Linked DNA regions of Homo sapiens. The protein of the gene in region 1 purifies or fractionates together with the protein of each later gene. This does not show direct contact. Each region holds a gene or a part of one and is shown in the gene's direction. Other genes may lie near its edges.

The links. Proteins that work in one complex are often made in the same cells at the same time.
Region 2: the proteins of CD44 (region 1) and HADHA purify together in Homo sapiens (co-immunoprecipitation; 3 studies listed by BioGRID and IntAct, with this or other methods). This does not show direct contact.
Region 3: the proteins of CD44 (region 1) and FGF2 purify together in Homo sapiens (co-immunoprecipitation; 3 studies listed by BioGRID and IntAct, with this or other methods). This does not show direct contact.
Region 4: the proteins of CD44 (region 1) and AMPD2 purify together in Homo sapiens (co-immunoprecipitation; 3 studies listed by BioGRID and IntAct, with this or other methods). This does not show direct contact.

Annotation. Positions count from the first base shown.
Region 1 is NC_000011.10:35,205,171-35,208,670, forward strand, and holds part of CD44 (CD44 antigen isoform 1 precursor), read left to right. Parts: intron 1-614; coding exon of another isoform or gene 615-670; exon of another isoform or gene 671-877; intron 878-941; coding exon 942-1,073; intron 1,074-2,934; coding exon 2,935-3,036; intron 3,037-3,500. UniProt on the Homo sapiens protein: Cell-surface receptor that plays a role in cell-cell interactions, cell adhesion and migration, helping them to sense and respond to changes in the tissue microenvironment.
Region 2 is NC_000002.12:26,227,633-26,231,132, reverse strand, and holds part of HADHA (trifunctional enzyme subunit alpha, mitochondrial precursor), read left to right. Parts: intron 1-838; coding exon 839-941; intron 942-3,500. UniProt on the Homo sapiens protein: Mitochondrial trifunctional enzyme catalyzes the last three of the four reactions of the mitochondrial beta-oxidation pathway.
Region 3 is NC_000004.12:122,825,676-122,829,830, forward strand, and holds the start of FGF2 (fibroblast growth factor 2 isoform 18 kDa), read left to right. Parts: upstream 1-1,499; coding exon 1,500-1,677; intron 1,678-4,155. UniProt on the Homo sapiens protein: Acts as a ligand for FGFR1, FGFR2, FGFR3 and FGFR4. Also acts as an integrin ligand which is required for FGF2 signaling. Binds to integrin ITGAV:ITGB3.
Region 4 is NC_000001.11:109,629,837-109,632,551, forward strand, and holds the end of AMPD2 (AMP deaminase 2), read left to right. Parts: coding exon 1-80; intron 81-396; coding exon 397-570; intron 571-846; coding exon 847-957; intron 958-1,106; coding exon 1,107-1,316; 3' UTR 1,317-2,215; downstream 2,216-2,715. UniProt on the Homo sapiens protein: AMP deaminase plays a critical role in energy metabolism. Catalyzes the deamination of AMP to IMP and plays an important role in the purine nucleotide cycle.

The DNA of each region.
Region 1 (3,500 bases):
CTATTCTTGAATTGTGAGATTGTGGAAATTGGAATCCAGTCTTATCATCATCTCTAAGTGATACCAGATAACTTGGCTTTGCAAGCTCCCATGCAGGATTCTTTTGTCTGTGTGACATAAGTATTAAAATGTGTCCTGCCTTATAAAGAATGTGAATTCCATATTCTCACTTGGTATCAGTGAGAAATATTCCCATATTTCTATTTGCAACATAGAAGATAATGCATCATGTCCTTCTGGGGCATGGCAAGTTCTAAATGAATTCCTGGCAGAGCAATGGATTCTGTGATTGTCTATGTGGTGTAGTTGTTGCTAAGAGGATGCTATTGTAATCTTTTCTACCTATACTTCTTCATTGGCTCAGAATGAAGCAAGGCATGTGCTGCTTTCTTATATGTCATTTATGCCATAAATCCCATTGTTAGAAGGTAATGCTTCTAACGGATTCCATTCATGCTTTTGAGATAAATGGCATTGACTTTCATATTGATCACATGGAAAGCTGTTACCTGATTCCTTTCCTGAGATCACTTCCAGCCTAATGTGCATTTGGCTGGAATATGGTTGTCTCAGAATAACATCATGCACTCGGGCTTTTATACTTCTGCCTTTAGGGGACTGTGGCAGCATGGCATGGGTCAAGAAGTACTTCTCCTTCATCTTCCTTTGATGTCGGTAACTCATCCTTTCTGCACTGCGGGAGTTGTTAATGCTTTTGTGTCCTCCAGTTCACATGCTGATTGCTAAGAAGAAAATGAGCATGAGTGAACCCAAAGCTGCTGAAACATTCTGCGTTTATGCAACTTCCTTGCCCTCTATACAAGGAAGATGGTTTCATTGTCTTGTCTAGAGAATAAAGTCTTTTTTAAAAATAAAATCGGTGTATCCCTGACCAAGCGTCCATTAACACTTTGACAATTGCTCAAACTGCATGGTCACAGCAGCCTCAGCTCATACCAGCCATCCAATGCAAGGAAGGACAACACCAAGCCCAGAGGACAGTTCCTGGACTGATTTCTTCAACCCAATCTCACACCCCATGGGACGAGGTCATCAAGCAGGAAGAAGGATGGGTAATAGCCTCTGAGATTTTTATATATTATGTTTTTTGAAATCCACTGAGTGACTGCTGACTATTTTTCTAGAAATATGCCCTTGGTTTTAGACCAAACTACTTTCCTGAAGGACCTGAGGTTCTTCAAAAATTAGTTTTCTTGGTAGGAGTGATACTCATATTCACCTGAATATGAAGTTCTGAGCTGAAAGTAAGGAATTTAGCAGGAGGGTTGGCAAAAGAAAAAACTTATTGTCAAAATATATCTGTGTGAGGCAGTAAGTAATAGATATGAAATGAATGTTGCCAACAATAAACGCTAAAGAAATTCTGAGAACCCCTCCCTGCCCACCACAGCATCACAGAAAGGTGAATTGGACTTGGTTTATGAAAAATAAAAAAACCCTGGATAGTCAGAGAAAGGAAGTGGGTGGTGGGGGTTGGTGGGGGGGGCAGTTTTCCTAAGAAGGAGACTCCTGTAAGGAGAAACGTGAAGGAAGAAAAGCCAAGGAATGAATATGTCAGTGAGTGGATCCATTTTTCACAAGGGAAGATGTGTTTGAATGGCTAGGCAGGGGCCATTATGTTGAGTGACTGAAGTACCACAGGCAGACCCAGCACACATGAGTTTGCACATGGCAGCTGGAGCTCTGAGGACACCCATGGGGGAAAACCAAGCCAGGCAAAGATCTTCAGAATCAATATTAATTCTATGTACTGATGAAGAGAAAGAGATTCCATTAAATTAATGAACATGTCAAGGACAATACAATTGGCTTCAACTACACAATGGTATGATGACTCTTGAAGGACTCTACTTATAAGAGGGAAGATGAACAAGAGTCTAGAGCCCATCATCAAGTGGGACTTTTTCTGGGAGAATGTCCATTTGTGGTTTTGATTCAGGTTAGCACTTGCTCTTGTTTGAAATCTGGGATAACAGGGTCACCACATTTTTGTCCTACAAAGATCTTTAATATTTTAGTGTTGAATATTTAGTGTTGAATCTTGAATATTTAGTGTTGAAAGGCTGCAGTGCAGACCTGGGTACCCAGTATTCTGGTGCTTCACTGGGACTGATTAAATCTCCCCCAGAGGCAGTGATGTGGATAGACTTTGACTGAATTGACAGCCAGAAATATCGATGGGGTTTATGAATTGTTTGGCCTCTGTTTCACTCAAGACTTCTTATTTCAGCAGAGTAGATCTGTGATAACTGTTAAAAACAACATTTACAAGTATTTCAGTGAAATTTCTGCACTACTCAACATTGTACATGTTAAATTTTAAAGACCGCTTATACTTGGGTTTTTGGGAAGAATAATTCAATGACGTCCACTGCTTCTTATTTCTTGCCCCTGTATACTTTCTGTAACTCCACCTAGGTGGTCTTGGATGACGATTCTGTTTATTTGCATATTCACTTTGTGAAGAAAAAAAGACTAAAGGGGGGAAGAGGGCTATTTTTAAAAGTCCCTTTGGTTGGTAAGGGGGAGGGGATAAAATGGTGCCTGAGCCAGCACACTTTGTCTTTTCTCCATGTGTCAGATTGCATGTTTCTATAAAAAAGGCAATGTTTCTGTCTCTCTGCAAGATTTGGGTGTTCCATCATGCACTCATGTGGAGTCCTTCCAGACTCAGCAAAAACAAACACACAGCATAGCTTTCATATAACTCGGCCCTTCAAGGAAAGCCAGTTACTTGTTGTGGTGCTCTTTGATGAAACAATAATCTATCTCAGTTCGGGAGATATAGTCAGTATGTGCTTTCTTTCCTCTTGGCCAGATGTGAATATTTAAAAAAATCAGCTGTAGACCATAAGCCACCTTCAGGTAGTGGTTTGGGAAATCAAGCAATAACACTAATATTGATTCCTTCAGATATGGACTCCAGTCATAGTATAACGCTTCAGCCTACTGCAAATCCAAACACAGGTTTGGTGGAAGATTTGGACAGGACAGGACCTCTTTCAATGACAACGCGTAAGAATAACGATGCTCAGCCACTTTATTGACTTGTATTCCTGCTTCATCTCTTACTCGCTATTGGCCAAGATGCAGAGCTTTGGTGGTGGAATGGTGCTATGTGGCTTACTTCAGCCCAGAGTGTGAAACTGTCTTCATTGTCTGTATTTCTTGTGGAGGTCTCTCAACCTGATTTTCCCTTCATTTCTTTGTGCCTTCCAGATTTAATGACTTTGTGTTTTAAGAAAAAGTAGGACTCTATTCAACTCCATTTTCATTCTCTAAGTAGTTATGTCAGTGAAACACATGCCCACTTCCAGGATAGTGATTTCTCTATGTTTTAACTGACCATTTCCTTTCAATGTCCATCTTTCCTCCAGCCAGTGCAGAAGAGGGGTAGGATTGCTTGCATGGTTGTAAAAAGACATTTTTGGGGCCAGATAATCCTAGAGATCACATCAGTTCTCAGAGGAGAGGCAAGG
Region 2 (3,500 bases), on another chromosome or scaffold:
TGAGTTTCTTTCTTTCTTCTTTTTTTTTTCTTAAACTATAGCTGGTATTTGAATGTTGCTAGAAGCCTTTCTTCTAGTATGCCATATAAGCAGCCCTAGCTGAGTTCTATTTTTGTTAAGCTTAAAATTCTTTTTAAAGACTTTGTCAAAACTATCAGGTTTCTCACAGTCTTCTCTAGTTTCAATATGAGAATTTTATTTTATTTTATTTTTGGGACAGAGTCACTTTTGTTGTTCAGGCTGGAGTACAGTGGCATGATCTCGGCTCACTGCAACCTCTGCCTCCGGATTCAAGCAATTCTTGTGCCTCAGCCTCCCAAGTAGCTGGAATGACAGGTGTGCCCCACCATGCCCAGCTAATTTTTTGTATTTTTAGTAAAGACAGGGTTTCACCATGTCGGGCCAGGCTGGTCTCAAACTCCTAACCTCAGGTGACCCGCCTGCCTTGGCCTCCCAAAGTGCTGGAATTACAGGTGTGAGCCACCGTGCCTGGCCAGAATTTTACATATTATATATATGATAGAAAAAAACCCCTCAGAATAACAGAAATGTACAATTTTAGGAAACATGAAATTCTTTACCTTATTAGTATAAGAATCCTATATATTGAATTAAGAGATAAAGACATTTTTGCTTCAGCTAGAGGTATCTAATCCCCAAAGTTACCCAAGTGTATATCAGTATATTAAATATAACTTATCTATGCTGTTGACAAATAGCATAAACATATGGCTTGACTTTTCTCATTTTAATATTTGTTCATTTGATGATTTGTAAACTATATAATTATCACCCTGATTTTTTTCCCCCTATATTCTCATCCTTGCTTGCCTGTTAGGTGGGTGTGCCTGCTGCTTTGGACATGATGCTGACTGGTAGAAGCATTCGTGCAGACAGGGCAAAGAAAATGGGACTGGTTGACCAACTGGTGGAACCCCTGGGTAAGTGTTAGCACATCTCAGAGTCAGACCTTATAAAGTTACTTATTTTCTTAAAGAGTTAACCTCTTAGGCCAGGCACGGTGGCTCACACCTGTAATCCCAGCACTTTGGGAGGCTGAGGCGGGAAGATCACTTGAGGTCAGGAGTTTGAGACCAGCCTTGCCAACATGGCGAAACCCTGTCTCCACTAAAAATGATTAGCCGGGTGTGGTGGTGCAAACCTGTAGTTCCAGCTACTTGGGAGGCTGAGGCAGGAGGATCGCTTGAACCTGGCGGGGCTGAGGTTGCAGTGAGCCAAGATCATGCCATTGTGCTCCAGCCTGGGCAACAGAGCCAGACTCCCATCTCAAAAGAAAAAACAGTTAACCTCTTGAATATCACAGGAAGCACAGAGAGAAGCTCAAACTCTTAAGAAATGAGTCATTATTCTAAGGAAGGAAGTTTTATAAAATAGCTAATACTAAATCATTTTCAACATCACCCTGATTTTTATTTTGCTTTATAATTAGAACATTAGGAGTACAGAATTCAGTCAAGTCATTATTTTTGGTTCTTAAATTACCTGTATCATTATCCATGCATAACCTTCCTTCAGTTTCTTGTGTCTGTTTTAGTAATATAATAAATGAAACAACCAACCTGAGAATATTAACAATAATTGATATCTACTGATGGGCTACTTCCTCCCATTCAGTTTCTTTGCCTCCCTTTATCCAAAGAAGCCACTATTCTGACTTGTGTGTTCATTACCCTCTTATATTTATTGAAAATCAGCATTATTGAGATATTACTTACATAATAGTAAATGTATTAATTTTGTGTGTGTGTGTGTGTGTGTGTGTGCGCGCGCACACATGTTGGGGTCTCACTCTGTTGCTCAGACTGGAATATGGTGGTGTGAATATAGCTTGTTGCAACCTCAACTTTTTGGGCTCAAATGATCTTCCCACTTGTGCCCCCCGAGTAGCTGAGACCACAGGCATACGCTGCTACACCAGCTAATTTTTTATTTTTTGTAGAAACGAGATCTCACTCTGTTTTCCAGGCTAGTCTCAAACTCCGGGCTCAAGTAATCCTCCTCCCTCAGCCACCCAAAGTGCCGAGATTTACAGGTGTGAGCCACTGTGTCTGGTGAAATTGACCAACTTTTAATGTATAATTTGAGTTTTGAAAATGTATATAGCTGTGTAAACACTGCCACAATCCAAAAATAGCCGTGCATGGTGGCTCACACCTGTAATCATAGCATTTTGGGAGGCTGAGGTGGGAGAATTGCTTGAGGCCTGGAATTCAAGACCAGCCTGGACAACAGAGCAAGATCCTATCTCTTAAAAAAGAATTTTTTTTTTTCAATTAGCTGGGTATCATAGTGTATACCTGTAGTCCCAGCTAGTCAGGAGGCTGAGACAGGAATATTGTTTGAGCCCAGAAGTTCAAGGCTGTAGTGAGCTATGATCACACCACTGCACTCCAGCCTGAGCAACAGAGTGAGATGCCATCTTTTAAACAAAAATTTTTAAACATTTCTGGTATGTAGTTTGTTTTAATCTTCGTTCACTTAGCATAATGCTTTTGAGATGCATCCATACTGTTGCATATATCAGCAGTTTGTCCTTATTGCTGAGTGTTACTCCATTGTAGAAATGTACCATAGTTTGTTTATCCGTTCACCAAATGATGAGCATTTGAGTTGTTTCTAATTTAGGGCTATTCTGAATAAAGCTGCTATGAACATTCATCTTTAAGTCTTTATGTGGGCGTGACTGGGCGTGGTGGCTCAAGCCTCTAATCCCAGCACTTTGGGAGGCTGAGGCAGGCTGATCACCTGAGGTCAGGAATTCAACACCAGCCTGACCAACATGGCGAAACCCCATCTCTACTAAAAATACAAAAATTAGCTGGGTGTAGTGGTGTGCACCTGTGGTCCCAGCTACTTGGGAGGCTAAGGTAGGAGAATCACTTGAACCCAGGAGGTGGAGGTTGCCGTGAGCCAAGATTGTGCCACTGCACTCCAGCCTGGGTGACAGAGCGAGACTCTGTCTCAAAAAAAAAAAAAGTCTTTATGTGGACAAATGTTTCATTTCTGTTGGGTAAGTACTGAAGAGTGGATTGGCTAGTCCATATAACAGATATATATTAGCTTTTGAAAAAAAAAGTTTGGCCTGAGCAACATAGCAAGACTCTGTCTCAACAAAATAAAAAGTTTTAACTAGTTGGGTGTGGTGGCACATGCCTGTAGTCCTGGCTACTAGGGAGGCTGAGGCAGGAGGATTGCTTGAACCCAGGAGTTTGAAGTCACATGGAGCTATGATCAGGCCACTGCACTCCAGCCTGGGTGAGAGAGGGAGACCTTATCTCTGGGAAGAAAAAAAAAAAATTTAGAGATGAGACTTTGAGTCTTGCTCTGTCACCCAGGCTGGCCTCAGACTCCTGGGCTCAAGCAGTCTTCCTGCCTCAGCCTCCCAAGAAGCCGGGATTACGAGGCATATGCCACTAGTATTTGCTAGGTATGTGTTTGCTTTTCTGTCAGACTGTTTTCCCAAAGTGGTTATACTCTTT
Region 3 (4,155 bases), on another chromosome or scaffold:
GCAACTCCTTCTAGAAGCTTCCCCAAATCTCCTGCCTCCCCACGCTGAGTTATCCGATGTCTGAAATGTCACAGCACTTAGTCTTACTCTTCTATGGCCTACTTTCTACTGCTATTTGTGTTACTCATGCTACCCATCTTATCTCCCTCAGTGTGTGAGACGCTGGCATCAGATTTGGCATCTCCCACACACTCAACATTATGTGTTGCACACAGTAGGTACTCAATACATGCAAGTTTTCTGAATAGATATTTTCCTAGTCATCTGTGGCACCTGCTATATCCTACTGAAAATTACCAAAATGCAATTAACTTCAATTTTACATTTGGGATTTACAGAAAATAACTCTCTCTCCAAGAAATGCATAACAATTTAGCTAGGGCAAATGCCAGGTCCGAGTTAAGACATTAATGCGCTTCGATCGCGATAAGGATTTATCCTTATCCCCATCCTCATCTTTCTGCGTCGTCTAATTCAAGATAGGTCAGTAAAGGAAACCTTTTCGTTTTAGCAACCCAATCTGCTCCCCTTCTCTGGCCTCTTTCTCTCCTTTTGTTGGTAGACGACTTCAGCCTCTGTCCTTTAATTTTAAAGTTTATGCCCCACTTGTACCCCTCGTCTTTTGGTGATTTAGAGATTTTCAAAGCCTGCTCTGACACAGACTCTTCCTTGGATTGCAACTTCTCTACTTTGGGGTGGAAACGGCTTCTCCGTTTTGAAACGCTAGCGGGGAAAAAATGGGGGAGAAAGTTGAGTTTAAACTTTTAAAAGTTGAGTCACGGCTGGTTGCGCAGCAAAAGCCCCGCAGTGTGGAGAAAGCCTAAACGTGGTTTGGGTGGTGCGGGGGTTGGGCGGGGGTGACTTTTGGGGGATAAGGGGCGGTGGAGCCCAGGGAATGCCAAAGCCCTGCCGCGGCCTCCGACGCGCGCCCCCCGCCCCTCGCCTCTCCCCCGCCCCCGACTGAGGCCGGGCTCCCCGCCGGACTGATGTCGCGCGCTTGCGTGTTGTGGCCGAACCGCCGAACTCAGAGGCCGGCCCCAGAAAACCCGAGCGAGTAGGGGGCGGCGCGCAGGAGGGAGGAGAACTGGGGGCGCGGGAGGCTGGTGGGTGTGGGGGGTGGAGATGTAGAAGATGTGACGCCGCGGCCCGGCGGGTGCCAGATTAGCGGACGCGGTGCCCGCGGTTGCAACGGGATCCCGGGCGCTGCAGCTTGGGAGGCGGCTCTCCCCAGGCGGCGTCCGCGGAGACACCCATCCGTGAACCCCAGGTCCCGGGCCGCCGGCTCGCCGCGCACCAGGGGCCGGCGGACAGAAGAGCGGCCGAGCGGCTCGAGGCTGGGGGACCGCGGGCGCGGCCGCGCGCTGCCGGGCGGGAGGCTGGGGGGCCGGGGCCGGGGCCGTGCCCCGGAGCGGGTCGGAGGCCGGGGCCGGGGCCGGGGGACGGCGGCTCCCCGCGCGGCTCCAGCGGCTCGGGGATCCCGGCCGGGCCCCGCAGGGACCATGGCAGCCGGGAGCATCACCACGCTGCCCGCCTTGCCCGAGGATGGCGGCAGCGGCGCCTTCCCGCCCGGCCACTTCAAGGACCCCAAGCGGCTGTACTGCAAAAACGGGGGCTTCTTCCTGCGCATCCACCCCGACGGCCGAGTTGACGGGGTCCGGGAGAAGAGCGACCCTCACAGTGAGTGCCGACCCGCTCTCTCCGCCTCATTTCCATTTCGTGGGTTCTCGCCCGCTCTCTCCCCTCCAGCCTGCACCCTCCTCCCGGATCTTCACTGCGACCCTAGCGCTCCGTGTGGTTTCTGGCCGCGCGGCCCTCGGCGGTTTCGGGTTCACCACTCACCCCCTCCTTTCCGGGCTGCGGCGTAGGCCCGGGTGTCCCCTGGGCTTTGGGGTGTGCCAATTTGCCCTGTAAACCAGTACCCCCGGCCCGGAGCCGCGGCGCGCCGGGGCCTCGCGGACTGGCTGTCTTCCCGCGGACAACCTGTCGCGTCGGGGATGCCCGCGGCCCCGCCATGCAGCTCTGGCCGCTTCTATCTGCTGCGTGCTGTCCCGGGGACAAAGACAGGAAGGACCGCAGCAGAACGAAACGGTCTTTACTGGAAAAACACCTTTCTAGAGTCCTGCCCTTAAATTCCGACTCGGGACGACCCGAGGCATATGGCACACTACTCTCACCCACTCTGTTTTATATTTTTCCGAATTGACGAAAGCTGAAAGAGCAAAAACAAAAACCAACCAGCCAACCAGCAAAAAATCCAGATGTTGTTAATAAAGTGCCATAGCTTTGTTTCAGTAGTGAAAAGAAGTGCAAACACTTTAATCTTCCACCTGCAGTGACTAGCTTTGAGACCTTGAGCCGACGCTTAACCCCAGAGCCGGTTTCCTCATCGCTCACGTGGGGCTAATATATTACTACCTTGCAGCAGGCTTGAGGATGAAATGAGAATTGCAGTTTTGCTTTCTGTAAGAAACAATGTTTGTGGTTCTAGAAAGAACACTGGCCTAAATAAGGAGTGCTTGGACTTTAGGGGATTCCCTAAGTCTGGAGTGGGGGCTGAAGATTTGCATTTCTAACATGTTCCCCGGGGATGCTGATCACATCACACTTTGAGAGCCACTGGTCTAGAGGAAAGAGAAAGAAAGGGGCATAAGATGAGCCGATTTACAACACTGATGGAATTTGAAGTGAGAGAAAGAGGACTAGAATATATTGTAACCTGTCCTCCTGTAAGTGTATGTAAACATGTGTTTTAAAAGCTGTGTGTTATGGCGTTCCTTCCTTTATGGGTTCCAGGTGGAGAATCTGATTCTCTCATTGCCTGAGAAAAGACCCACAGGGGTCCCAGCGCCACTCCCCTGTAGTTCTGCCTTTGTCTTGGGATGCTAATGGGATGTCATGAGGGGAGGTGGAGGGGGGCTGGAAGAGAAGAAAATTCTACAACCAAACGTGAATTGGCAGAAGAATGGGCAATACACTTTCATATGAGCTGAGTCTTTATTGCTTCCAAAATAGCAACCTGCAAGAGAGGCAAGTATTTAATTTTTTTCAGGCTTGCCATAATTTAAAAATTTTATCAATCACTTAATCCCGTAAAACTGAAAAGATGCTTGTAACCTATTAGATGGGTTAGTGCTAGTTCTCTATTCTGGTAACTTGAACTCATCTATTTCAAAAAATTATCTTTGTGATTGAAGTTTGTTCTGCAGTTGTCTGCTACGCCATCTCAGCTGACAAGGGCAAGGTGCTGTGTGTCCCAATTGGTTTTGTTCTTTCTAGTATCACAAATTATTTATTAAAAAGCATGTATTATGACCAGAAGACAGAAGAATTTCCCTTTAAATTAAATTAATATTTGGGGCTTCCCCTAATACTCTTTTTTTTTCAGACTCTATTAGTTGCTGAATCATTTTTTCTTTGAAGATTTTGATACCCGATTCGCCTTAGAATAAAACTATGTAGAGGTTAGCCAGTGGACATAATTTTGAATTGCATACCACATTACCACCGTTGTAAAAACAACCGTTAACTTTTTCTTCCTAACTGTGAGTTGGGTTTTCATTTTTGTAATCTTACTTTAACTCTGTGGTTCTCAAATGGGGACGATTTTGCCTCCCAGGGGACATTTGACAATGCCTGGAGACATTTTTGGTTGCTGTAACCTGGAAGGGTGCTACTGGCATCTGGCAGGTAGAGGCCGGGGATGCTGCTGAACATCCTACAATACACATTATAATACCCTCAACAAAAACATTTTTGACCCCAAATGTCACTAGTACTCAGGTTGAGAACTCTGCTAACTTTATAACTAGCTAAGGACAAGACATTAAAAGGGAAATGTAGAATAACTCATCCAGACTTGTGGAGACTACCAATTTTTTTAAAATTTTTTATTTCTATAGGGTTTTAGGGACCAGGTGGTAGTTGGTTACATGAGTAAGTTCTTTAGTGGTGATTTGTGAAATTTTGTTGCACCCATCACCCAAGCAGTATACACTGAATCCAGTTTGTAGTCCTGTCCCTCCCCAACTTCCCACCCTTTCTTCCCAAGTCCCCAAAGAGACTACTCTTTTTTTAAAGGATACCTGTACCAGGCAATAGACTGACAAGAATACAAATCTAAAAATGACAAATTTCATCTATTTCTATGTAGCCCAA
Region 4 (2,715 bases), on another chromosome or scaffold:
GGGAGGCTGGGCCCATCCACCACCTGGTGTCAGCCTTCATGCTGGCTGAGAACATTTCCCACGGGCTCCTTCTGCGCAAGGTCAGGATCTGCACCCCTAGCCTTCCCTCCCAATTGTTCACCTTCCTCTGAACCATTCGGGCCCCTTCAGCAACCGATCCTCCTCCCACCCAGCCCTCAGATTGGATTCTGCCTTCCCAATGTAACTACCCTTCCCCACCCCAGCCTTCAGCCTGGGGCCCCAACTTGGATTTTGACTAATTCACCCTTTGCACATCAGGCCAAGCCTGGATTCCCCTCCCCCTGCCCTCTGCTGTGGCCTGGACCCCCAGAACCACTGTGCCCTGCCCAGCCTCGGGGCCACCTGACAGGCCCTCCCTCCCTGTTGCCTGCCCAGGCCCCCGTCCTGCAGTACCTGTACTACCTGGCCCAGATCGGCATCGCCATGTCTCCGCTCAGCAACAACAGCCTCTTCCTCAGCTATCACCGGAATCCGCTACCGGAGTACCTGTCCCGCGGCCTCATGGTCTCCCTGTCCACTGATGATCCCTTGCAGTTCCACTTCACCAAGGTCAGAGCCCAGCAGGCAGCCAGGCGGGCGGGCGTCCCAGGACGCTGGGGTCTCCCGGGTTGGGTGGGGGGCGGTGGGGGGGGCGGTCTCTCGGGTTGGTGCTGCCCCCTGCTGGTAGAGCATAGCTGGCCAATTGACAAGTCTTATGGAGTTGAGGGGTTGGGGGGTTGGGGGGATGGGGGGGCGGGGGTGGGGAGAGTGAGTGAGGAGGCTGGGGAAGGGAGGCAGGGGCAGCTGGCCAGGGCGCACTCGTCTGAGGGAACCTGGCCCGTGCAGGAGCCGCTGATGGAGGAGTACAGCATCGCCACCCAGGTGTGGAAGCTCAGCTCCTGCGATATGTGTGAGCTGGCCCGCAACAGCGTGCTCATGAGCGGCTTCTCGCACAAGGTACTACAGCGCCTGCCTGGACCTTGGCATGGCATCACTCCTCCCCTCCTCTGCATTTGGGGTCCTGACCTGTCCCTGGGATGGCTTGGGGTGGGGCATGACCCCTCAGCACTGGCTGCAGCCCTGCCCATTACCCCCGCTCCTTGCAGGTAAAGAGCCACTGGCTGGGACCCAACTATACCAAGGAAGGCCCTGAGGGGAATGACATCCGCCGGACCAATGTGCCAGACATCCGCGTGGGCTACCGCTACGAGACCCTGTGCCAGGAGCTGGCGCTCATCACGCAGGCAGTCCAGAGTGAGATGCTGGAGACCATTCCAGAGGAGGCGGGTATCACCATGAGCCCAGGGCCTCAATGAGCCTGGTCCATGAAGTGCCCACCACATCGCAGCACTTTTACCACGTTTTGTCCTCAGACCCCGCCCATGCTGTGTGGTCTCTGCATGTCTCCATTCTTCTCTGTCTCTGTCTTGCATGTCTCCTACCATGTCACTGTCCCTGGGCCACCCAGTGAAAGCAAAGCCTGGGAATCTGCTCATTGTTGTTTGGGCTCAGGTATTGAGCCTGATGGCCCAGGTATTGAGGGCCTCCCCTGCTGGTGGCCCTGTCCTGGGATCCTCAGAAGCCTGACTGTCCTATGGGCTTCTCCAGTGTCCACAGGGGCTTGGGATGGTTGTGGGGGGCTGGCCCCTCTAGCCTTTCCGGTCCTTCCTGGGCAAATCTAAGCCTTGGCCAGGGCCGAAGTTTAGGCCCCTGTCTTGTTCATGTAGCCGAGGGGCAGGCGGGGGACCTCTACACCTCTGCTGTGGGCACGGGGCTGCTGAGGGTCTGTGGAACTCCAGCAGCTCTGCACTGGGTAGAGCTGGGCCTAGAGCTCAGTCACAGGCCTGGGCTTCCTGGCCTGAGTGGGTAGACGCAGGCGGCAGAGGTGCTGGACCACATCTCCGCCAAGTCACTGCCCAGCAGCCTTCTCCGTCCTGTCCCCAGCCCACGTGCTCCTTGGGTGTCAGCTTCCTGTGCCTCTGTGGGAGAGGGCAGCTGCCTTGTGTTATGTCTGGGGCCACAGTTGCTGCAAAGTCCTGGATCTGCCACTCAACCCCGGGAGTGGTGTTCCCAGTGTGGCTCCCAGAGCTTTGACCAGATTGTGATCCCAGCTGGCCCCTATGTTGTGTTCTGGACTGAGGCCTTTGCTGTGAACTGCAGTGTTTCATACGAACCATCTTTCCTAGTGCATGAGAAATAAAGATTATTTAAGTAATGAGGCAGGTGGGGTTTCTGTTGGGAGAGGGAACGCCGTGGTGGGAGGTGGCTGTGGATGGAGGCACCGTGCATTCTGAGGGGAGGGACTAGGCTTGGGTGATGTGTATGTTGTGCATGTGGAAACTGACAAAAGAAGCTGTGGGAGAGAGGAGATGCCCATCCAACCCTCATCCAGCCTGTTCCCTGTGAGGGGAACACCTAGCCCCGGGTCTGTGACACATCCCTGTCACACCAGCTTGGGGGCTGGTGTCTGTTTCCCACCTTGTACTTCCTCCCCTCTTCCAGCCTCTGAGGGGATGGCCTGGTAGATGGGAAATATGCACCTACAGACAAACCTGAGACCAGGGTCTTCTGGGGGGGTCTTGTTTAGATGGCCCTCTCCAGGCCATACTCTCAGAGATTCTGATTCAATAGGCAGAAGGTGTGGCACAGACATCTGCAAACTCTCGGGCAGATTCTATTGCAAGAGGTTGGAACAAGCCTGTGCATTCCGATTCC